Linked DNA regions of Homo sapiens. The protein of the gene in region 1 purifies or fractionates together with the protein of each later gene. This does not show direct contact. Each region holds a gene or a part of one and is shown in the gene's direction. Other genes may lie near its edges.

Evidence for each region.
Region 2: the proteins of KLK4 (region 1) and KCNIP4 purify together in Homo sapiens (affinity purification with mass spectrometry; 2 studies listed by BioGRID and IntAct, with this or other methods). This does not show direct contact.

The regions. Positions count from the first base shown.
Region 1 is NC_000019.10:50,905,670-50,918,518, reverse strand, and holds KLK4 (kallikrein-4 isoform 1 preproprotein), read left to right. Parts: upstream 1-7,123; 5' UTR 7,124-7,180; intron 7,181-7,769; 5' UTR 7,770-7,780; coding exon 7,781-7,841; intron 7,842-9,104; coding exon 9,105-9,267; exon of another isoform or gene 9,268-9,279; intron 9,280-9,689; coding exon 9,690-9,940; intron 9,941-10,023; coding exon 10,024-10,160; intron 10,161-11,432; coding exon 11,433-11,585; 3' UTR 11,586-12,168; downstream 12,169-12,849. UniProt on the Homo sapiens protein: Has a major role in enamel formation. Required during the maturation stage of tooth development for clearance of enamel proteins and normal structural patterning of the crystalline matrix.
Region 2 is NC_000004.12:20,727,991-20,739,718, reverse strand, and holds the end of KCNIP4 (Kv channel-interacting protein 4), read left to right. Parts: intron 1-4,983; coding exon 4,984-5,091; intron 5,092-6,933; coding exon 6,934-7,038; intron 7,039-7,161; exon of another isoform or gene 7,162-7,650; coding exon 7,651-7,713; coding exon of another isoform or gene 7,714-7,782; exon of another isoform or gene 7,783-9,589; coding exon 9,590-9,637; 3' UTR 9,638-11,113; downstream 11,114-11,728.

The DNA.
Region 1 (12,849 bases):
GAGTTCGAGACCAGCCTGGCCAACATGGCGAAACCCCGTCTCTACTAAAAGTACAAAAAAATTAGCCAGGTGTGGTTGCGTGTGCCTGTATTTCCAGCTACTCGGGAGGCTGAGGCAGGAGAATCACTTGAATCCAGGAGGTGGAGGTTGCAGTGAGTCGAGATTATACCACCGCACTCCAACCTGGGCGACAGGGCAAGACTCCATCTAAAAAAAAAAAAAAAAAACCTAAATAAAATTTAAAAGCTAGTCCCTTGACCACACCTGCCCACTATGGCCTGCACAATTAGATCTTAATTGATTTCAGTCTGCTCCAGGCCCACTGCCCCTGTCCCCATCTGCCTGGCAAGAAATGTCACAGCTACTTTGGGGTCCCATCCATCCTCCTTCTTCTGTAGAGTGATGTCTGATGACTCAGCTTGGTTGCTGCTAGAAAAATGGGGGATGCCCAGGCCCTTGGTTAATGAGGCCACCATCATAACTTCTGCTCCTTTGGTTTTTGTGGGGTTTTGGGGTGATATTTTTTTTTTTTTTTGGTGAGTTTGTGTGTGAGACAGTCTCACTCTGTCGCTAGGCTGGAGTGCAGTGGCGTGATCTTGGCTTACTGCAATCTCCACCTCCTGGGTTCAAGTGATTCTCGTGCCTCAGCCTCCCAAGTAGCTGAGATTACAGGCACGCACCACCAAGCCCGGCTAATTTTTTGTACTTTTAATAAAGACGGGGTTTCAACATGTTGGCCAGGCTGGTCTCAAACTCCTGACCTCAGGTGATCTACCCGCCTTGGCCTCCCAAAGTGCTAGGATTACAGGCATGAGCCACCATGCCCAGCCTTGTTTGTTTTTGCTCTCACAGGCTGGAGTGCAGTGGTGTGATCTTGGCTCACGGCAGCCTTGAACTCCTGGGCTCAAGCGATCCTCCTCCTGCCTCAGCCTCCTGAGTAGCTGGGACGACAGGTGTGCACCACTATGCCTGGCTAATTTATTTTTAGTAGTGACGGGGTCTTGCTATGTTGCCTAGGCTGGCCTCGAACCCCTGAGCTCAAGTGATCCATCTGCCTCAGCCTCCCAAAGTGCTGGGATTACAGGCGTTAGCCACTGTGCCCAGCCCTCCTTTATTATTTACTGGGGTTCTTCTACTTGCTGCTGCAGAGTGGCTAGAAGATCCTCCCCAGAGTGGTCCCCCCAGCCCACAGCCATCCTCCCATCTTGCTGGCAAACAGGCTGTGTTCTCTCTGCCTCCCTGCACCTCCCTCATGCTGGAGTGAGCTCCATCTTTCCTTCTCCCAAAGTCCGTCTCTCCATCCTCCTCCCCACTTCTGGAGGAGATCCCAGGATTGCACCATTCAGTCCCAGCCTCTCTCCTCTTGAGACCGGAGCAGGAAAAGGAGCCACTCACACCAGGACTTTTGAGTTTTCTTCCTACTGAATATCCTATCGTCCATACTAAGGAAGGAAAAGACTTTTCTTGTGTAATACAATCTGCCCCAAGGTAGCCTTATGTTATTGAATAAAAGGCAAGGATGGGCCGGGTGTGGTGGTGTGTGCCTGTAATCCCCACTATTCGGGAGGCTGAGGCAGGGGAATTGCTTGAACCTGGGAGGAGTAGGTTGCAGTGAACCGAGATCCCACCACTGGACTCCAGCCTGGGCGACAGAGCGAGACTCCATCTCAAAAAAAAAAAAAAAAAAAAAAAAAGCAAGAGTGATGCCTTCTTCCACCCTTGAGGTTTGTTCAAATCCAGCCGACAGGAGTTCCCTGAGGTTACTGAGGAAAACTCAGGGGTCAGTTCCCTAAGGGCTGCTCTGGGCACCTCAGCAGAGATGGCTGGGGCTGCCTCGGGGCCTTAGTGCAGCGGCACCACTGCATCCAGAGATTCATGCCTCTTGTGGCTCAGCCAGCCCCCAGGGGGATGGGAGGTAGAAGGGGCTTGTTCTTCCAGTTATACAGTAAGAGCGGGCTCTCTCGGTGGGCGGGTGGCCCCGTCTGTGGCCGCATTCCCTCCCCTCCCCAGCAATACTCCCTGGCTTCTCTGGCTGAGGCTGCATCTCATCCGCAGGTGGGGGTGAACTCAGATGACTCAGATGATGGATAGTGGGCCAGGGTGGGCCCCCATGACCTGTGTATCTACAGGAAGGCCCACCTGTCCTTTGGCTTCAGCTTCTGTTTCCTGACTTATAGAGAGAGGTGGCATAACAGCTCAAGATATGGGCTCTGGGGTCAGGCAGCCCATGTGCATGGCTGCTTTGCTGTGTGATCTTCAATAAGTAGCTTGCCCTCTCTGTGCGTTCATTTCCTCTTTCATCACATTGGGAATAATGATGAGTACCTCAGGGAGTTATGAAAATTAAAACTAGTTAACTTGTATAAAATTGTTACCATGACAACTAGAAGAGAGGTGATAGATAAATGTTAGATATTTTATCATTATTATTATTACTTGTTTGTTTTCTGAGACAGAGTTTCACTCTTGTTACCTAGGCTGGAGTGCAATGGCGCGATCTCGACTCACTGCAACCTCTGCCTCCCGGGTTCAAGTAATTCTCCTGCCTCAGCCTCCCAAGTTGCTGGGATTACAGGGGCCCACCACCACGCCCAGGTAATTTTTGTATTTTTAGTAGAGATGGGGTTTTGCCATGTTGGCCAGGCTGGTCTCGAACTCCTGACCTCAGATGATCCACCCGCCTCAGCCTCCCAAAGTGCTGGGATTGCAGGCGTGAGCCACCGCGCCCAACCTGATATTTTATTATTTTTAAAGTGATGATTATTCCTAATTCCTGAGACGTGTCTCTCTTTCAGCGTCTTCCTATCTTTTTGGCCACATCTCTCAGTGTGTTCCCAGCTCTCTCCTACTCTCCATCTACCCACTTCTGTCTGTTCTTCTCTTTTGGCCTCAGTCTTTCTGTGACCTTGGTAAACTACTTACCCTCTCTGTGCCTCAGTTTCTCCATCTGTCAAACAAAGTTCATAGCAGCATCTACTTCTTAGATTTTTTTGAGGAATACATTTGTTATTGCATTTAAAATACTTAGAAGAGGGCCAGACATAAGGTAAGTTCTTGACCTCCTTACAATTAATTTAACATATTCTAAAGGTTAATTAATAGTAAGCTACCATTGTTGTCTGTTGTTATTTTCTCTCTCCGTCAGCCTTCATCTCTCCCTCTCCTGTCTGTCTCTCTCTATTTTTGTATCTCCCTTTATCCATCCACTCAACACATCTGCAGTGAATAGTTTTTATCAGTGAACATAACAGACACCAGCCCTGTCCCCAAGGGGCTCCCACACTAATGAAAGAAACAGCTACTAGAAAAATAAACACACAAGACGGGCGCGGTGGCTCTCGCCTGTAATCCCAGCACTTTGGGAGGCCAAGGTGGGCGGATCACCTGAAGTCAGGAGTTTGAGACCAGCCTAGCCAACATGGTGAAACCCCATCTCTACTAAAAATACAAAAATTAGCCAGAATTGGTGGCAGGCACCTATAATCCCAGTTACTGGGGAGGCTGAGGCAGGAGAATCGCTTGAACCCGGGGGGCGGAGGTTGCAGTGAGCAGAGATCGCACCACTCTACTCCAGCCTGGGTAACACAGTGAGACTCCATCTCAAAGAAACAAACAAACAAACAAAAAAGAAAAAAAAAGAAAAAGAAACACATAATAATACGTGTATACATTGTACCAAATTCTCTAAAGGAGCATGTAGGATGCTATAAGATGAAAAAACAAATAGGGGAGTGAAGACCCTGAATCAGACTAGGGGAGGGCTCAGGGAAGGGCTCTGAAGAAGTAACACTTGAGTTGAGACACAATGAAGAGAGCGAAGGGAGAAGTGTTGGAAGCGCATGGAAAACAAAGACAGAGCAACATGAGAGAAGACAGGAGGAAAGTGGAGACAGAGAAAGATAGACAGAGACAAAGGTGCAGAGCCACAGACAGAGAGACAGAGACAGAGATGGGAGGAGAGAGACACAGAGAAAGATGGACAGAGACAGGTGCGGAGACACAGACAGAGAGACAGAGACAGAGATGGGAGGAGAGAGACACAGAGAAAGATGGACAGACACACAGGTGCGGAGACACAGACAGAGAGACAGAGACAGAGATGGGAGGAGAGAGAGACACAGAGAAAGATGGACAGAGACATGTGCGAAGCCACAGACAGAGAGACAGAGACAGAGATGGGAGGAGAGAGAGAGACACAGAGAAAGATGGACAGAGACACAGGTGCGGAGACACAGACAGAGAGACAGAGACAGAGATGGGAGGAGAGAGACACAGAGAAAGATGGACAGACACACAGGTGCGGAGACACAGACAGAGAGACAGAGACAGAGATGGGAGGAGAGAGACACAGAGAAAGATGGACAGACACAGGTGCAGAGACAGACAGAGAGACAGAGACAGAGATGGGAGGAGAGAGACACAGAGAAAGATGGACAGACAGGTGCGGAGACAGACAGAGAGACAGAGACAGAGATGGGAGGAGAGAGAGACAGAGAAAGATGGACAGACACACAGGTGCGGAGACACAGACAGAGAGACAGAGACAGAGATGGGAGGAGAGAGAGACACAGAGAAAGATGGACAGAGACAGGTGCGAAGCCACAGACAGAGAGACAGAGACAGAGATGGGAGGAGAGAGAGACACAGAGAAAGATGGACAGAGACACAGGTGCGGAGACACAGACAGAGAGACAGAGACAGAGATGGGAGGAGAGAGAGACACAGAGAAAGATGGACAGACACACAGGTGCGGAGACACAGACAGAGAGACAGAGACAGAGATGGGAGGAGAGAGACACAGAGAAAGATGGACAGACACAGGTGCAGAGACAGACAGAGAGACAGAGACAGAGATGGGAGGAGAGAGACACAGAGAAAGATGGACAGACAGGTGCGGAGACAGACAGAGAGACAGAGACAGAGATGGGAGGAGAGAGACACAGAGAAAGATGGACAGAGACAGGTGCGGAGCCACAGACAGAGACAGAGATGGGAGGAGAGAGACACAGAGAAAGATGGACAGACACAGGTGCAGAGACACAGACAGAGAGAGAAGGCAAGGTGAGACAGAGACAGGAGGAAAGAGAGACACACAGGGGCAGACAGAGACAGACAGAGATCAGAGGGTCACAGACAGAGGTCAGAGGGAGAGCGAGAGAGAAGGGATCAGAGAGAGAAAGGGACAGGGACAGGGAAAAGAGAGACAGAGACAGAAACCTGCCAGGGCTTCCTGTTCTGTGGTCCCAGCCTATGTCCCGTCCTGCCCAGAGTTATCTGGGGGCGCACGGGCCCAGGACAGAGTTGGGGGAGGGTCTCACTTGGGATGCTTCCAGTCTGGCAGGTGAGAGAAACAGAGACAAGGGGGAGAGAGACAGAGATGGGACCAGAGAGGCAGAGGAAAAGAGAGCCAGAGAGAAAGAGAGACAGACACACGGGGTGGGCTGTGGGGGAAAGAAGTAAGGAAGGAGAAGGAAAGAGTGTTAGAGACCCAGGAGAGACAGAGAGACACAGAGACATTCCTGCCTCGTCGCGGTCACCTGCGGGCACTATCCCTCACCCGCGCCGGCTCCGCGGTCTACACCCACCCACTCCTTGGATGATCTCACCCGGCCTCGTGGCTGTAAACACCACCTCTCCCCTGATGAGTCCCCGCTGTTTCTCGGCAGTCCTGACCTCGGCCTGCCCCTCCGTGCACCCTCCGCGGTCTACGGCACCCTCTCACCCCCCACCCCCCTTCCCGCACCTATGCGTCTCCACAAGATCCGTAGAGCGCAAGCCAGCAGACCAAGCCTCCACGCCATCCTTGGCCCCTCTGCTCCTGGCCCCCCACTTTCCATCCATCGGGCAGTAACTTGGCTCCACATGCAGAGGGGACCCCGTGTCCATTCACCTCTCTTCTCCCTTGACCCCGTCACCTCCCACCTGGGCTGTTGCCACTGCCCCCCGCCCCGCCCCCACCATCACTCTCCAAGCTGGAAGTTTTTAAAAAGTAAATAAGATTATGTCACTCCATCCTCGTGCTTAAAATCCATTGCACTTAAGTAAAACCCAAGCTCCTTAATCCTGGTACGTAAACTCCTGCAGGCCCGCCCGGTTCCCGGTCTGCGCTCCTACCCGCCCTGCCCTCCTACCCGCCCTGCCCTCCTCTGGCTGGAGCCAAGTTCTCCCCTGCACCCCGCAACCGCCCCTGCTGCGGCGACCCTCCTCCTCCTCTTCCCTGGGATCTCAGCTTAAATGTTCCCCTTCTCTGAGTCTCCCCGACCACCACCTTATATGCTGGTCCCTGCAGTTTTCCTTTATGGTCTGTGCCCCCGGGTAGGACGCGATCCCCAGTGACGAGGACTTTGCTGGTTCCTCCTGTGGCCCCAGCACCTGCCGCAGAGCTCGGAGTGTGGTAGGCACTCAGCTGCTTTTCACTGAGCGAAGACTTTTTAGTTCTCCCGCTCACCGAGAGCCTACAATGTGCCTGGCACTGTGTGCCTTTCCCTGAATTACCTCTTTGAATCCACTTGGGAAATGGGGCATAATGGTCACTCCAGTTTTACAGTTGGAAAAACAGGCTCACAGGGGTGCAGTCACTTGCCCAAGGTTCCAAAAATAGTTCGTGATGTAGGCTGGATACGAACCTGGGGAAATTTGCTGGAGAAGCACAGAAAGAGAGGGATGAAGGAGGAGGGGAGAGAGAGAGAGAGATTTAATTTAAAAAGAGAAAGAACATGAGAGAGAACAGGAGAGAATGAGAGGAAATGAAAGAAAACACGAGAAAAATAATGAGAGAGAGAATGAGAGAAAGAAAGAAGAAGAGAAAGAGAAAATGAGAGATACAGGCAAGAGAGAGGTATCTCATGAGAGAGAATAAGAACATGAAAAGAGAAAGAATGAGAGAGAGAGAGAGAAAGAAAAAGGAGAGTGGAGTCTAGGATCTGGGCAGGGGTCTCCTCCCTGGGTCCCTAGACCCTGCTGCCAGCCCCTTCTGGGCCCCCAACCACTGCCTGGTCAGAGTTGAGGCAGCCTGAGAGAGTTGAGCTGGAAGTTTGCAGCACCTGACCCCTGGAACACATCCCCTGGGGGCAGGCCAGCCCAGGCTGAGGATGCTTATAAGCCCCAAGGAGGCCCCTGCGGGAGGCAGCAGGCTGGAGCTCAGCCCAGCAGTGGAATCCAGGAGCCCAGAGGTGGCCGGGTAAGAGGCCTGGTGGTCCCCCACTAAAAGCCTGCAGTGTTCATGATCCAACTCTCCCTACAGCTCCATGTCGCTGGATTCTCAGCCTCTGTGCCTTCTGTCTCCACATCTCTCTAGACAGATCTCTCACTGTCTCTAGTTAGGAGTCACTGTCTCTAGTTAGGGGTCTCTCTGTCTCTCTGAATCTATATCTCCATGTCTAACTCTCAGACTGTCTCTGAGGATATCTCTCAAGCACTCTGTCTCTCCGGCTCTGATTCTCTGTGTGTCTTCCCTCCATGCTTGTTTGTGGGTGGCTAGACACCATCTCTCCCCATTCACAGATGGCTAGATGCTTTCTCTAAACTTTCCTTTCTACCTAGTTCTCTCTCTCTCTCTCTTTTCCCATCTCTCTCTCTCTTTTTCTCTCTCAGTCTCTAAATCTGTCTCTCTAGGTTCTGGGTCCATGGATGGGAGAGGGGGTAGATGGTCTAGGCTCTTGCCTACCTAATAACGTCCCAGAGGGAAGAAAGGGAGGGACAAAGAGAGGGATGGAGAGACTTGGGCTGAAGATCCCCAGACACGGCTAAGTCTCAGTCCTCATCCCCAGGTGCTGACGTGATGGCCACAGCAGGAAATCCCTGGGGCTGGTTCCTGGGGTACCTCATCCTTGGTGTCGCAGGTATCTGAGTATGCGTGTGTGTGTCTGTCCGTGCTTGGGGGCACAGTGTTTGTTAATGTTCAGGTGTGACTCAGTGTCCTCTTGCTTGTGACTGCAAAGCTGCCTGTGAGACGGTACCGTGTTATCCGTCCCCCATGGCTGTGCCCCTGCAACTCCTTGTATCGTGGTAAATTTGTGTGTGGCAGTGTGCCTGGGTGTGTGGTTGTACCTGTGAGACTCTGACAGTTTGTGCCTCTGAATATCTGGTGGAGTGACAACAGTGTAATGATGATATGGGGACAGGGGAAGCCGAGGGTGCAGGAGATTGTGCTTCCTGGGGCGTGATCCATTGCTGGGAATCTGTGCCTGCTTCCTGGGTCTTCAGTCCTGAGATCCCCCTCTCCCATCCCCAAGGAACTCACCTCACAGGACTATAAAACGGTGTTTTGGTGTGCATGGGCTTGTGGCTTGGTGTGACTGTGGGCAAGGCTGGGAGAGGATAGGAGTGACTCGGCGCAGGACCGACTCTTTGAGCATCAGTCTGCGCAGACAAGTGACCCGATCCTTGCTCCCAGCAACAACTCCACCCCCTGAGCTTTAATTCACCCCGAAGGACCCGATCCTACTGCTATGAGCCTAGACTCCTCTGTTGAACCCCTCCTGACCGTGGCTTTGCACCGCGATGGCACCAGTCTCACCTCCAGAGCTCACCCCAGAGCCCTGACTCCGCCCCAGAAGCCCTGGTCCCACCTTCTGAGACTGCCTCTAGCCATAACCCAGCTCTTGAAGCCTTGATGGCGCCCCTGCGCTGTAACCCCAACCCTAGGAGCACTGATCCCGCCTTCTCAGCCCACCCCCATGCCCTGACTCTCCTCCCAGGAGCCCTGACTACCCTGAATCCCTGACCAGGCTCCTGCACCGTGATCACCGCCCCTGGGAGCCCTAGGCCTATATCCTGGACCAGCCCCTGAAGCTCCGATCATGACCCCTGCACCATAACCCCACCCCCAGGAGCCCTGGGTCCGCCCCCTGGGCCCGCCCCCAGCCCTGACTCGGCCCCCCAAGAGTCCTGACTGCTCCTGAAGCCCTGACCACGCCCCTGCTCGGTAACCCCTCCCCCAAGAGCCCTGGGCCCGCCTCCTGAGCCCGTTCCCAGCCCTGACTCCGCCCCGAGGAGCCCTGACTGCTCCTGAACCTCTGACCACGCCCCTGCTCGGTAAGCCCACCCCCAGGAACCCTGGGCCCGCCTCCTGGTCCCGATCCCATCCCTGACTCCGCCCTCAGGATCGCTCGTCTCTGGTAGCTGCAGCCAAATCATAAACGGCGAGGACTGCAGCCCGCACTCGCAGCCCTGGCAGGCGGCACTGGTCATGGAAAACGAATTGTTCTGCTCGGGCGTCCTGGTGCATCCGCAGTGGGTGCTGTCAGCCGCACACTGTTTCCAGAAGTGAGTGCAGAGGTAGGGGGAGTGGGCAGGGCCTGGGTCCGGGGGCGGGGCCTAATATCAGGCTCATCTTGGGGTGCTCAGGGGGAAACAGCGGTGAAGGCTCTGGGAGGAGGACGGAATGAGCCTGGATCCGGGGAGCCCCAGAGGGAAGGGCTGGGAGGCGGGAATCTTGCTTCGGAAGGACTCAGAGAGTCCTGACTTGAAATCTCAGCCCAGTGCTGAGTCTCTAGTGAACTAAGGCAAGTTCTTGTCCCTGAATTTTTGTGAATGAGGATTTGAGACCATGGTTAAGTAGCTCTTAGGGTGTTTAGCGAAGAGGGTGGGGTTGGGGTTAGGAGATGGGGATGGGAATGGGGTTGAAGATGAGAATGGAGGTAAGGATGTAGTTGCCACAAAACTGACCTGCCCTCCGTGGCCCACAGCTCCTACACCATCGGGCTGGGCCTGCACAGTCTTGAGGCCGACCAAGAGCCAGGGAGCCAGATGGTGGAGGCCAGCCTCTCCGTACGGCACCCAGAGTACAACAGACCCTTGCTCGCTAACGACCTCATGCTCATCAAGTTGGACGAATCCGTGTCCGAGTCTGACACCATCCGGAGCATCAGCATTGCTTCGCAGTGCCCTACCGCGGGGAACTCTTGCCTCGTTTCTGGCTGGGGTCTGCTGGCGAACGGTGAGCTCACGGGTGTGTGTCTGCCCTCTTCAAGGAGGTCCTCTGCCCAGTCGCGGGGGCTGACCCAGAGCTCTGCGTCCCAGGCAGAATGCCTACCGTGCTGCAGTGCGTGAACGTGTCGGTGGTGTCTGAGGAGGTCTGCAGTAAGCTCTATGACCCGCTGTACCACCCCAGCATGTTCTGCGCCGGCGGAGGGCAAGACCAGAAGGACTCCTGCAACGTGAGAGAGGGGAAAGGGGAGGGCAGGCGACTCAGGGAAGGGTGGAGAAGGGGGAGACAGAGACACACAGGGCCGCATGGCGAGATGCAGAGATGGAGAGACACACAGGGAGACAGTGACAACTAGAGAGAGAAACTGAGAGAAACAGAGAAATAAACACAGGAATAAAGAGAAGCAAAGGAAGAGAGAAACAGAAACAGACATGGGGAGGCAGAAACACACACACATAGAAATGCAGTTGACCTTCCAACAGCATGGGGCCTGAGGGCGGTGACCTCCACCCAACAGAAAATCCTCTTATAACTTTTGACTCCCCAAAAACCTGACTAGAAATAGCCTACTGTTGACGGGGAGCCTTACCAATAACATAAATAGTCGATTTATGCATACGTTTTATGCATTCATGATATACCTTTGTTGGAATTTTTTGATATTTCTAAGCTACACAGTTCGTCTGTGAATTTTTTTAAATTGTTGCAACTCTCCTAAAATTTTTCTAATGTGTTTATTGAAAAAATCCAAGTATAAGTGGACTTGTGCAGTTCAAACCAGGGTTGTTCAAGGGTCAACTGTGTACCCAGAGGGAAACAGTGACACAGATTCATAGAGGTGAAACACGAAGAGAAACAGGAAAAATCAAGACTCTACAAAGAGGCTGGGCAGGGTGGCTCATGCCTGTAATCCCAGCACTTTGGGAGGCGAGGCAGGCAGATCACTTGAGGTAAGGAGTTCAAGACCAGCCTGGCCAAAATGGTGAAATCCTGTCTGTACTAAAAATACAAAAGTTAGCTGGATATGGTGGCAGGCGCCTGTAATCCCAGCTACTTGGGAGGCTGAGGCAGAAGAATTGCTTGAATATGGGAGGCAGAGGTTGAAGTGAGTTGAGATCACACCACTATACTCCAGCTGGGGCAACAGAGTAAGACTCTGTCTCAAAAAAAAAAAAAAAAAAAAGACTTTACAAAGAGATGCAGAGACACTGAGACAGATAAACAAGCCACAAAGGAGACAAAGGAGAGACAGACAAACAGAAACAGACAGACCACAAGCCCAAGAGAAGCAGCCAGCATTCAGGACATAGGACATCGGGAAGCAGGATTAGATGAAGTCAGGGATCTGGAATGGGACTTCCAACAGATATGTTGCTGGGCTATGTTGTTATTGATGATGGTTCTGTCTTTGTTTCTCAGTCTCATTTAGTTCCTTTCTGAGCCCACATCCATTTCCACCTCTCTGTGTTTTGAATTCTGACTCTCCCTCTCTTCACAACAGGGTGACTCTGGGGGGCCCCTGATCTGCAACGGGTACTTGCAGGGCCTTGTGTCTTTCGGAAAAGCCCCGTGTGGCCAAGTTGGCGTGCCAGGTGTCTACACCAACCTCTGCAAATTCACTGAGTGGATAGAGAAAACCGTCCAGGCCAGTTAACTCTGGGGACTGGGAACCCATGAAATTGACCCCCAAATACATCCTGCGGAAGGAATTCAGGAATATCTGTTCCCAGCCCCTCCTCCCTCAGGCCCAGGAGTCCAGGCCCCCAGCCCCTCCTCCCTCAAACCAAGGGTACAGATCCCCAGCCCCTCCTCCCTCAGACCCAGGAGTCCAGACCCCCCAGCCCCTCCTCCCTCAGACCCAGGAGTCCAGCCCCTCCTCCCTCAGACCCAGGAGTCCAGACCCCCCAGCCCCTCCTCCCTCAGACCCAGGAGTCCAGCCCCTCCTCCCTCAGACCCAGGAGTCCAGACCCCCCAGCCCCTCCTCCCTCAGACCCAGGGGTCCAGGCCCCCAACCCCTCCTCCCTCAGACTCAGAGGTCCAGGCCCCCAACCCCTCCTTCCCCAGACCCAGAGGTCCAGGTCCCAGCCCCTCCTCCCTCAGACCCAGCGGTCCAATGCCACCTAGACTCTCCCTGTACACAGTGCCCCCTTGTGGCACGTTGACCCAACCTTACCAGTTGGTTTTTCATTTTTTGTCCCTTTCCCCTAGATCCAGAAATAAAGTCTAAGAGAAGCGCAGGTTCTGTTTGTAGTGTCCTCCTTGCTTCCCCTTCCATTCAAGAGATTCCAGCAAATGGCTTTCCCTCCATGGGTCGCATTTCCCTATCTGGGAAATGCGAGCTTTGACCAGGAGGGCCACAGAGTTTCAGAGGGAGGGGCCATTCCCTGGATAGTTAAGAGAAACCAGTGCCATGGATGTTGTCCAGTTTCTGAAAAGTCAGGTCAGCAAATGGTAACCGTAGAGATTTTCTTGCTTAGTTTAACTATTCAGCTTTAGTTGATCTATATTCATTTTTGTCTTCTTAACTGCATTTCAAGAATTTTTAATTTGCATGTGTCTCAGAAGTTGGCTGCTGCAGCTAGAGTCTAGTGGGGAGAATTGTGGCGAGGGCTACTGTGAGTGACAGCAACAGAGACCAAGGAGTAGAAAGAGGGAAGTTTGAGGGGCACAATGGGGCAACTGAGGGGCAAGGAGATGGGAGACTGAATAAGTATATAGATAATTTGAACAGTATGATTAACATACTCTATTTAATGGTCATATATGGAATGTTGCACCCAGTATCTGAAAAATATAGAATCATTTCAAAAGACATACAGCTACCAGAATGGCTAAAATTGAAAAGAATAACAGCATCAAGTCTTGGTTATATCTACAGCAGCTGTAACTCTCCTACATTGCTGGGGGTAGGGGGTAAA
Region 2 (11,728 bases), on another chromosome or scaffold:
CCATTGCTGGCGAGGAGGTGCGTTCCTTTGGAGAAGAGGTTCTCTGATTTTTACACTTTTCAGCTTTTCTGCTCTGGTTTCTCTCCATCTTTCTGGTTTTATCTACCTTTGGTCTTTGATGATGGTGACCTAAAGATGGGGTTTTGGTGTGGATGTCCTTTTTGTTGATGTTGATGCTATTCCCTTCTGTTTGTCAGTTTTCCTTCTAACAGTCAGGACCCTCAGCTGCAGGTCTGTTGGAGTTTGCTGGAGGTCCACTCCAGACCCTGTTTGCCTGGTTATCACCAGCAGAGGCTACAGAACAGCACATGTTGCTGCCTGATCCTTCCTCTGGAAGCTTTGTCTTAGAGGGGCACCTGGCTGTATGAGGTGTCAGTCTGCCCCTACTAGGAGGTGTTTCCCAGTTATGCTACTCGGGGGTCAGGGACCCACTTGAGGAGGCAGTCTGTCTGTTCTCAGATCTCAAACTCCATGCTGGGAGAACTACTCTCTTCAAAGCTGTCAGACAGGGATGTTTAAGTCTGCAGAAGTTTCTGCTGCCTTTTGTTCAGCTATGACCTGCCCCCAGAGGTGGCATCTACAGAGGCAGGCAGGCCTCCTTGAGCTGCAGTGGGCTCCACCTAGTTTGAGCTTCCTGGCTGCTTTACCTAGTCAAGTCTCAGCAATGGTGGACGCCCCTCCCTCAGCCTCACTGTTGCCTTGCAGTTCGATCTCGGACTTCTGTGATAGCAGTGAGCAAGGCTCTGTGGGTGTGGGCCACTCTGAGCCAGGTGCAGTATATAATCTCCTGGTGTGCCGTTTGCTAAGACTGTTGGAAAAGCACAATATTGGCAGGAAGTGTCCTGATTCTCCAGGTACCATCTGTCACAGCTTCCCTTGGCTAGGAAAGGGAATTCCCCAACCCCTTGCGCTTCCTGGGTGAGGCGATGCCCCACCCTGCTTCGGCTCACACTCTGTGGGCTGCATCCACTGTCCAACAAGTCCCAGTTTAGATGAACCTGGTACCTCAGTTGGAAATGCAGAAATCACCCATCTTCTGCGTTGCTCATGCTGGGAGCTGTAGACTGGAGCTGTTCCTATGTAGCCATCTTGGGGGGATTCCCCAAAAGTGCTATCTTTAAATCTTTCATTGTTTCTCTGCTGTTTTGTGTGGTGGTGAGGTCAATGCCAGTGATGAGTGCTGTAGGCCAGTGATTCTCAAAGTGTGATCCCTGGAAGCAGTACAGGCTTCCCCTTGGAATGTGTCAGACATGTAAATTTTGGGGTCCCACTTCAACCTAATGAATCATAATTCTTGGAGTAGGTCCCATAAATCTTTTGGCACACTCCCCAGGTGACTGTGTTGCACATTATATTTTGAGAACCAATACTCTAAGCATGTTTTCAAAGACCCTGTGGCCAGCTCCCCTTACAATTAATGACATATTATTACTACGCTGTGAATTTTTAAAAATATCGTTTACATTGATAACAATCAATCTCATCTAGCCTTTCAAAACTGCTCAGCAATCTTCCTTGAATAAGGCTCTATGTTCTGCAATGTATATTTTATGCCTTCTGAAAAAGCTAAGGATTTTTTTTTTTTTTTTGAGACAGAGTCTTGGTCTGTCATCCAGGCTGAAGCACAGTGGTGCAATCATAGTTCACTGTAGCCTCGACCTTCTGGGCTCAAGTGATTCCCATCTCAGCCTCCCAGGTAGCTGGGACAACAGGTGTGCACCACCATACCCAGTTAATTTGTTTTTCTTGCTGTTAATTTGGATCTGGCTGCGTTGCTCAGGCTGCTTGCAAACTCTTGGACTCAAACAACCTTCCCACCTCCACCACCCAAAGTGCTGGGATTACAGGCATGAGCCATGATCCCCAGCCTGCTGGTTGTGCAAGATGTACACTCATACCTCCAAGGGCTGTCATTACCTTTTAACTAAACTACATTCTATGTCATAAATAATTTTCTAAAATATGGCAGGGAAATAATTTGAGGGAGGTCTCCCTTTCTCTAATTTGCATGTCATCTTACTGCTTAGTATCAGAGCTTCTGCCTCTCTCCTCAAACCTCAGATTCTTACCTCTTCTACCAGGCTCCTCACTCTCAAACAGCTCACACTCACTAAAGCTATCGGACAGAAACACAGTCATCTTCCCACCTGCAAAGCAGCTGCTGGCATCCACACCATGTTCTTCTGTCTCATGTATCAACTCCCTTCTCAGATCGGCCCATCTACCCATGTTCTGGATCCTCCCCACCTTCTCAAGAGCACAGCCCATTTCTGACTCTTACTCTTTTTAGATTCTTCTCTTCAGTATTCAAAGTGCTCCTCATTAAAAATTACTCTTCACTCCTACTCCACTGGACCGTTCCCTATCACTTGCTGGTGACCTCCATGTTGCTGGTCCAGTGAACATTTTTCCAACCTTGGAGCAAAATGAACAATCCTTTCCTAGGGAAATGCTCTGTTCTCCTGACTCACTTCTTTAGCAACTTCTTTTCAAGATGCTTTGCCAGCTTCTCCTCTCTGTACCTGCCAAATATTGGAATTCCTTGTGGCTTTCTCTGGAATCTTGTTTTTCTCTCACTTGACATTCTACCCTTCATGCCAATGGGAAGCAAACTAAGTATGGTGATCCAGTTGCCACAGCACCATATATTGAGATTATTCTTTCCATAGCTATTGAATGGTCTTGGCACCATTATCGAAAATCAATTGGCCACAGACAGCTGGTTTATATCTAGACTCAATTCTATTCTACTGTTCTATATATCTGTCTTTATGCCAGTACCACACTGTTTTGATTAATGTAACTTTGTACTAAGTTTTGATATTGGGCAGTGTGAGTCCTCCAAGTTTGTTTTTCTTTCTTAAAATTGACTGGGCTATTCAGGGTCCCTTGCAATATGAATTTGACAATTATTTCTGTTTTTGTCTTTTTCATTTTTGCTAAAAAAGGTCTGTGGCCATTCTTGATAAATTTGCTTAAGTGGAAGGGTTGTATAATTCTTTACCATGATAAAAGTAAGTATCATGCTTAAAAGCGAATTGAAATATTCTCAAGTTCAAGAAAAAACTAAGAATATCTATTATCATTTTCATTATGTAACACTGTTCTATATATATTAGGCCATATAATTAGAAAAAAGTAAACATATAAAAATTAGAAAAAAAGGTAAAATTAATTCCATTTGCAGCTAATATTGCACACATGAAAACCCAGAAGAAAACCAACGTATGTCAGCAAATTGACAGGGTATAAAATTATCATACAGAAATCAATGGCTTTCATACATACAAACAACTAGTTTAGAATATATGATAGAAAAAAATATCTCATTTACAACAGCAACAGAAATATTAAAATACCTAGAAATAATGATGAGAAAAAATGTAAAAGAACAATTTGGTTAAATAAACTACGATGTATTTACATATACAATGGAAACTCAAATTGTTTCCCTGATTTATGCTTAAGTGGAAAAAAAAGTATAGAAGTCTGTTAGCTAGTAAAACAAATATATCTTATACTTGTGTATGCACAAAAATTCCTTGGAAGTAAATACAAACTATTTATGCCAGTAGTCTATGAGTGAAAGGAACAGGTGGCTGGGTCCAGGAAGGGAAGAAAGATTTTTCACCAGGCAGCTTACACAATTTTTAAATGTTGAACTATATGGATGTTACTTATTTAAAAAAGAAAAAACATTTTGAGAAATTCAGATAGAAATACAGCTATAAAAGGAAGGAATGTGAGAAAGGGAGATATAATGCAAATTCACCCAGAAGACTTTTGGATTTCCCCTCTGCTTTCATTCCTACCTAAAAGTGGATTATAAACTGAATACAGCACATTGTAACGTTAACCCTGCTGTACATAACAACAAGAAATCTGGCCAGGCGTGGTGGCTCACGCCTGTAATCCCAGCACTTTGAGAGGCGGCGGTGGGCAGATCACAAGGTCAGGAGTTCGACACCAACCTGGCCAACATGGTGAAACCCCATCTCTACCAAAAATACAAAAATTAGTCAGGCATGGTGGCGGGTGCCTGTAGTCCCAGCTACTCGGGAGGCTGAGGCAGAAGAATGGCTTGAACCTGGGAGGTGGGAGGTGGAAGTTGCAGTGAGCCAAGATTGTGCCACTGCACTCCAGCCTGGGCAACAGTGCGAGATTCCATCTCAAAAAAAAAAAAAAAAACAAAAAAAAAAACACTAAATGAATTTAATCAAGTTAATCTGGCCAGTCTGCAATGCAATCTAACCAGGATACAAACTGAGGGCTCCATTTACTTAACAAAAACTTACATAGCCAATGTCATTGCCAAGGACTGTTATAAGCAGCCTCTTTTTTAATCCTCATAAAATTGTGAAGAGGTAGATACTATTATTAGCTCCATTTTACAGATACGAAAATTGAGGCAAAGGGATGTTAAGTTGCCTGAAGACACAAAGCCATCCAGTAATATAGCTGGAGGGTGAATCCAGGCAGTCTGTCCTTTCCAGTTCCATGCTCTTACCCACTGTCCACATGTAAATTATAACTGGATTTCTAATTAAAGACCACAATTGGTTTATCTTTTATGGACAGCCACATTTCTTATTAGCAAACGGTTTTTCATTGAAGTGTGTTATGTGTGCACTTGTATTTTTTTGAAAAAACTATTATTAGATTCTTTTAGTAAATCATGTGCACTTGCAGTGGAAAGCCAATACCACTTATACTCAAGCCTCTAGCTGTGTGGGTACGCACTGGTACAATTTCCAGTATGACCATTGATTTAACTCAGTTTCCAATTAGAATATGAAAATGTTAAGACTAAGGAGTGATTTATGCCCACAGAGAAGTCTGAAAACTAGACAACCAATAACACATCAATCATTTTGCTAAATGTTCAAGATCCAGAGGGTTGTAGCCCTTACTTACATCATTTGTTTTTTTTGTTTTTGTTTTTTTAAAAATGTCATATAAAATTGAATTTTTATTTCTTTTCAGGATTTCATCAAAGGTCTTTCCATTTTGCTCCGGGGGACAGTACAAGAAAAACTCAATTGGGCATTTAATCTGTATGACATAAATAAAGATGGCTACATCACTAAAGAGGTAAGGGATGCCTCACCAACATCACAGTAATTTGGACCATTTTCATTTCTTAACTTTAAAATATTAATTGCAATTATTAATTTGAAAAGTTTTTTTGAGGAAATTCCAAAATATTTTATGTAGTGGAAGAAAGATGTACAATTAAAAACTTGGGATAGAAGTAGTTTATGGTGAAGCTCCAAAGTAAATATATAACACATAAAGATTACACCCTTGTTTCCTGCTGGCATCTTAATAAATACTGTGAATGGAATAAAGATCATGGTTGGAATCAGATAGAAAGAAAATGTATCCAACCCATGTTTCAACATTTAGCCTGAAGCCTTTCTTTTCCCCACAGCATGTGATCCATAAGGAAATGAAATTTTACAATCATGGGGATTGTGGAATGACCTGACGCAATGGTGGGGTCTCCAAATGCACGTTGAGGCAGACTATCCAGGAAACAAGGTTCACAGACCAAATTAAGATACTCGTATTACACAGTTTATTAAACCAATTTAAAACACAGCGAGAAGTAAAGAAAGGGATGGAGTAAGTTAACCACGCAGGACAGGCTGCAAATGGGGTTGAAAGACCACTCCCTAAATCCTGGGCATTCTCAGTGTGCCTATGTCCTGTCTCTCTTTGCCTCACGAGACTTCCCCAGAATTGAGTTTTGAGCAAGAGGCCCCACAGACAAAAGGTGCCCAGGGCCAACAGCAAATGACATGAACTTGCGCTACTGGAGAGACACAGGTGCAAGTGTGCCAGGTCACGAGTATAGCCTGATAAGTAGTAATGGGTTTCATTTGTGTTTCTTGCACAGAGGACACCTGGGGCCAGAATAGGTATCACTAGTGGGTGCCAAATTAAGACCTTATGGCTATTGTGTTCATGTATATGGAGCATATCCTAAATAGTGCTTCTTGTATATTTTTATATCATGAATATTTATTACCCAGATACTTAGGATACCTTAAATATCTCTTGTTCTTCAATTCTTACCTCTGTGTTTAACACATCTCAAGAATTCTGCCTGTGTCTAACAAACTACTTGCTACTTATCTATGCTTAAAACATCTTAAAAGGTTTCACCTGTTTACAAATTACTCTATCATTTATAATTGAATACTCTTAAAAGTAAATATATATTCGCTCTGTATTAACCTAATTGAGAGATCTTTCACGTGAAACAAATGTGCAACAATAAATCTAAATGTTTAAGTTATTAGAGATTATTTTTACTCTCATAAGAATGAAAGTGGTAAGGCAAAAATTAGACTGTTTTAGAGAAAAAGTTAATAACAAAATTTAAAGGTGTTTCCCAGGGTCAAAATTTTTTGACTAGTCTTCACATGTGACTTAAGTTAAAGCCACAGTAGGAAAAATACAACAAAAACCCTAATGAACCTTAAGACTTACCAATTAATTTCACTAATTCTAAATGGTGTTTTTTCTCAATATACGATGTGCCGTATATTTGATTCTCAATAGATGGAAACTGATGATCAACACATAAGATATATAATGCAATTAAATAAACATAGTCTACTTAAAGTCTATAGAAATCCAAACATTAAGCCAGCATATTCTTTTCCTGACTATGGTAGATACATGGAAATTTGCTTCCTTTTGAAACCAAGAGATCAGAATTCATTCTTAAATTCTGATTCTTCTGCTCTTAAGGCAGAAAGCTGTTTGTTGCCTTTTCCTTTGGGACAACCAACAGTCGTCTAACAAAGAATCCAACAAACAAAAAGTCAAAAATTTAAAATTGAGTAGGAAAAATCTGTCAGAGCTTCTTAGACTGGTTTCTTCATACATGTGTGCAGCCTCACGTGAGTGCCTTTTATTTTTCAGGAAATGCTTGATATAATGAAAGCAATATACGATATGATGGGTAAATGTACATATCCTGTCCTCAAAGAAGATGCTCCCAGACAACACGTTGAAACATTTTTTCAGGTAGGAATTAAAACAGAAGTCAAGAGGGCATGAAGTTAGGAGAAAATTTCCTGATGTTTGCCATGCACCACGATGATTCAAAAGAGAGCAAAGGAAAATAATTTTTACTGAAACAAAACAGTATTTAGCATCCTATTAATTTAATAGCTTTGGTTTTGAATTTACAATGCTGATAACTGCATTTATTGAACATTCACTAAATCCAAGATACAACACTAAACAGTTCTCATGTTTCACAAGTTTTGTTTTCATTCAGTTTTTACAAGAATCCTATAAATCCTCATTAATCTCATTTTACAGATGAGACAAAAAGCAAGCTCTGAAAGTTTCAGCAAATTGCGCAAGCTCTGTCACATCTAGAAGGTGGGATTTTACCTAGGACAGAGTGACTCTACATCTTCACCACATTATATTGAAAAGGGAAAAGCCAGAAGCATTTGGCCCTATCATTTTTATCTCTAAAAAACTGCTGGTTCCTGCTCTGAAACAGTTCCTCCACGTGAAATAAATAAGCAGCTAGGTTTTCTTTTTATCAGCTTCAGCTCATTTGGTCCAGGTGTGAGGGTATTAAGGGATAAGTCTAAATACAATTTTTGTTTTCTTCCTGAACAGAAAATGGACAAAAATAAAGATGGGGTTGTTACCATAGATGAGTTCATTGAAAGCTGCCAAAAAGTAAGTAATGAAAGTGTAATAACTATCAATTCAGCTATCATAACAGCTAAACTGAGTATTAGCAGCTAGCTACCATGAACTGGGCGAAATATAGAGATCATATGCCTAAGTTTACCACTTCTACAACATGCAGCATAAGCCTACCACTCTGAAAACAAGCACCAATTACATAATCAACATTTAGAGTGCCCACTGAGTCAGGCTATGGAGGAAACCCTGGGGATACAAAAGTTGTACATGTACTGTGTTGATTCCCAAATTCCTTAGAGAGTATTCATGGAGGATAAAACATACATGAGATTTGAATTGCTCTTTGCCAAAACTTAGCATCACTCATATATTATCTATCATATCTCCACAGCATTAGAATTCCTAGATAGCCAAGTATGGCATCACAACAGGCCAAGCTTCTATCTGATTTCTAAGAGAAAAGTCATTGTTTTAGTGTATGTGGACAAGAAATGGCTCTTTGACTGAACTCACTAATGGTCTTCAGTCACAAAAAATAAACAGTGGAAAATTTTCTCTGAAGAGAACTCCAGGTAGTAGCCTGTTATCAAAGAAACCAGTGTTAGCTTACTTAGAATTATTTGACTTGATGTGTGGGCAGAACCACAGTTAAAAATTGTTAAGGCCTGGTACAGTAGCTCACAACTGTAATCCCAGCACTATGGGAGGCTGAGGCGGGAAGATAACTTAAGGCCAGGATTTTGAGTCCAATGTGGGCAACATAGCAAGACCCTATCTATCTCTACAAAAAAAAATTAAGTTAGCTGGGCACGGTGGCACGTGGCTGAAGTCTCAGCTACTTGGGAGGCTGAGGCAGGAAGATCACTTGATCCCTGTTGAGCCATGATTGTGCCACTGCACTCCAGAATGATGGGCAACAGAAATAGACTCTGCCTCAAAACTAAAAAAAGAAAAAAAGAATTTTTCAAATAATCCTGAAAACAAAGAAATCCGTTGTTTCTTTAGTTTTTCTCTTTATTTTTAAATTGTTGTTCTTACTTTTCTGGATGTCTGCTTGTCTCTCAACTTGGATTTCCATGCAGTGGTCTTTGAGAGAATTAATTTGGTGACATTAAGCTGCTTGACGGTGATGTTACTTGGTTTCTAGCAGTGGAAGCCATTATTGGTTCAGCCACCATTTACCACTACCATAAACAGCTCAGTAAGTGCTATTCACATGCAACTGACAAGTGCTCCAATAATGCCCAAAGTCTGTCCCCTAACTCATTTCTAAAGAATATGCTAAACTGAACACAGCCACTGAGCAGTGGTTTCTGCTCCCCAATTCTTTCTCTGTAATTGAGAGACCATTCATTTTTAAAGGCTCCTTCAGGCCATGCAGCTTTAGCCATAACTAGCAGACAGAAAGAGAGATGATTACTGCAAACATGTTACCTCTTAATCCACCACCCTGCCTCCTATGCGCCAGCCTCCAATCTTCATGAACTGCTGGCTCATACACACAAATTTTCCTTGTACCTGTATAAAAGTCTGTGTGATTTGGCCTGTGATCTACATAGAATGCCAAAATTCTCATTTGCTTTGACACACCTCTGCACCTCTGTAGTTTCCATTTTGGCATTATGATTTGAGAAATATCCTCTATTAATACCAAGTAAAGATTTAAATAAAGTGGTTTAATGCCTGGTCAATAGACTCCACAAAATATAAAATGGGTCCTTCATAGTCATCTATGTGGAAAATGGATAGAATAGAATGGCATTTACATTTGCAAACACTTAATATTTGAGCTTTTGGCATAGGTGGTTGAGGTGGTTGATGGGAGGAGGCAATACTCAGGGGCAAAATAGTGTACTTTTCCTTGCAGATATGCTGAATTTAATCGCTCTGTGTTTCTCCCTTACAGGATGAAAACATAATGCGCTCCATGCAGCTCTTTGAAAATGTGATTTAACTTGTCAAATAGATCCTGAATCCAACAGACAAATGTGAACTATTCTACCACCCTTAAAGTTGGAGCTACCACTTTTAGCATAGATTGCTCAGCTTGACACTGAAGCATATTATGCAAACAAGCTTTGTTTTAATATAAAGCAATCCCCAAAAGATTTGAGCTTTCAGTTATAAATTTGCATCCTTTTCATAATGCCACTGAGTTCAGGGGATGGTCTAACTCATTTCATACTCTGTGAATATTCAAAAGTAATAGAATCTGGCATATAGTTTTATTGGTTCCTTAGCCATGGGATTATTGAGGCTTTCACATATCAGTGATTTTAAAATATCAGTGTTTTTTGCTACTCATTTGTATGTATTCAGTCCTAGGATTTTGAATGGTTTTCTAATATAGTGACATCTGCATTTAATTTCCAGAAATTAAATTAATTTTCATGTTTGAATGCTGTAATTCCATTTAAATTCCATTTATATACTTTAAGGAAACAAGATTACAACAATTAAAAAAACACATAGTTCCAGTTTCTATGGCCTTCCCACCTTCTGTTAGAAATTAGTTTTATCTGGCATTTTTAAACATTTAAAAATTATTAAACATTTAAAAATTAGTTTATTATCAGATATCAGCATATGCCTAATAAAACTTATTTTAATAAGCATTTAATTTTCCATAATATGTTACAGCCAAGGCCTATATAATAATTTTGGATTTGTTCAATCTTTCTTACAGGCTGTTTTCTATTGTATCAATCATTAGTATCAATCATTAAGTGGAAGTTGAAGAAGGCATCAAACAAAACAAGGATGTTTACAGACATATGCAAAGGGTCAGGATATCTATCCTCCAGTATATAGTAATGCTTAATAACAAGTAATCCTAACAGCATTAAAGGCCAAATCTGTCCTCTTTCCCCTGACTTCCTTACAGCATGTTTATTTATATTACAAGCCATTCAGGGACAAAGAAAGAAACCTTGACTACCCCACTGTCTACTAAGAACAAACAGCAAGCAAAATTAGCAAGCAAAATTCACTTTGAAAGCACCAGTGGTTCCATTACATTGACAACTACTACCAAGATTTAGTAGAAAATAAGTGCTCAACAACTAATCCAGATTACAGTATGATTTAGCTCATCATAATTCAGATTATTTTTAATCATCTTAGCCAAAACTGTAAAGTTGCCACATTACTAAAGCCACACACATCGTCCCTGTTTTGTAGAAATATCACAAAGACCAAGAGGCTACAGAAGGAGGAAATTTGCAACTGTCTTTGCAACAATAAATCAGGTATCTATTCTGGTGTAGAGATAGGATGTTGAAAGCTGCCCTGCTATCACCAGTGTAGAAATTAAGAGTAGTACAATACATGTACACTGAAATTTGCCATCACGTGTTTGTGTAAACTCAATGTGCACATTTTGTATTTCAAAAAGAAAAAATAAAAGCAAAATAAAATGTTTATAACTCTACTGTCTATGTTACAGGTCTTTTCCAAGAAATTTTGTAATTAATTAAATCTTACAGTACTTTCTAGATGGCAGATAGCTCTGGATGGTGCTCAATGCAATGAAAACAGGTAAAAGCAAGGCCAGCAGGCAGGCAGCTGTTGTAGCCAGAGGGAATTGCTTCTATTACATCAAAATTCTGAACTATGTCTATATTATATTTTAAAAGCTTCTTAAAAATTGCTAAACATAAGCACAACAAAATCAATGAATGCATGTACAAGTTTTAACATTTTAATTGCTGAATATCTTTAAGTGAACATCAGTATTTTCTGGCTATGAAATGCAAAAATAACACATTTACTTAAATACAGTTAACACCTAAAATTTAGGTAGTTGTAATGAGTTGTAATAAACAACATACTTGTAATAGAATTTACAGAATTAGAAAAAATTTTTTAAACTAGAATACTCTGAAAATTTTCCAAGCATTGTACATTATAAAATACATATTTACAAATAATATTAGTAGTGTATTCATGGGGCCAGGCATGGTGGCTCACACCTGTAATCCCAGCACTTTGGAAGTCCACTGTGGGAGGATCACTCACCAGAATTCTGAGACCAGCCTGGACAACA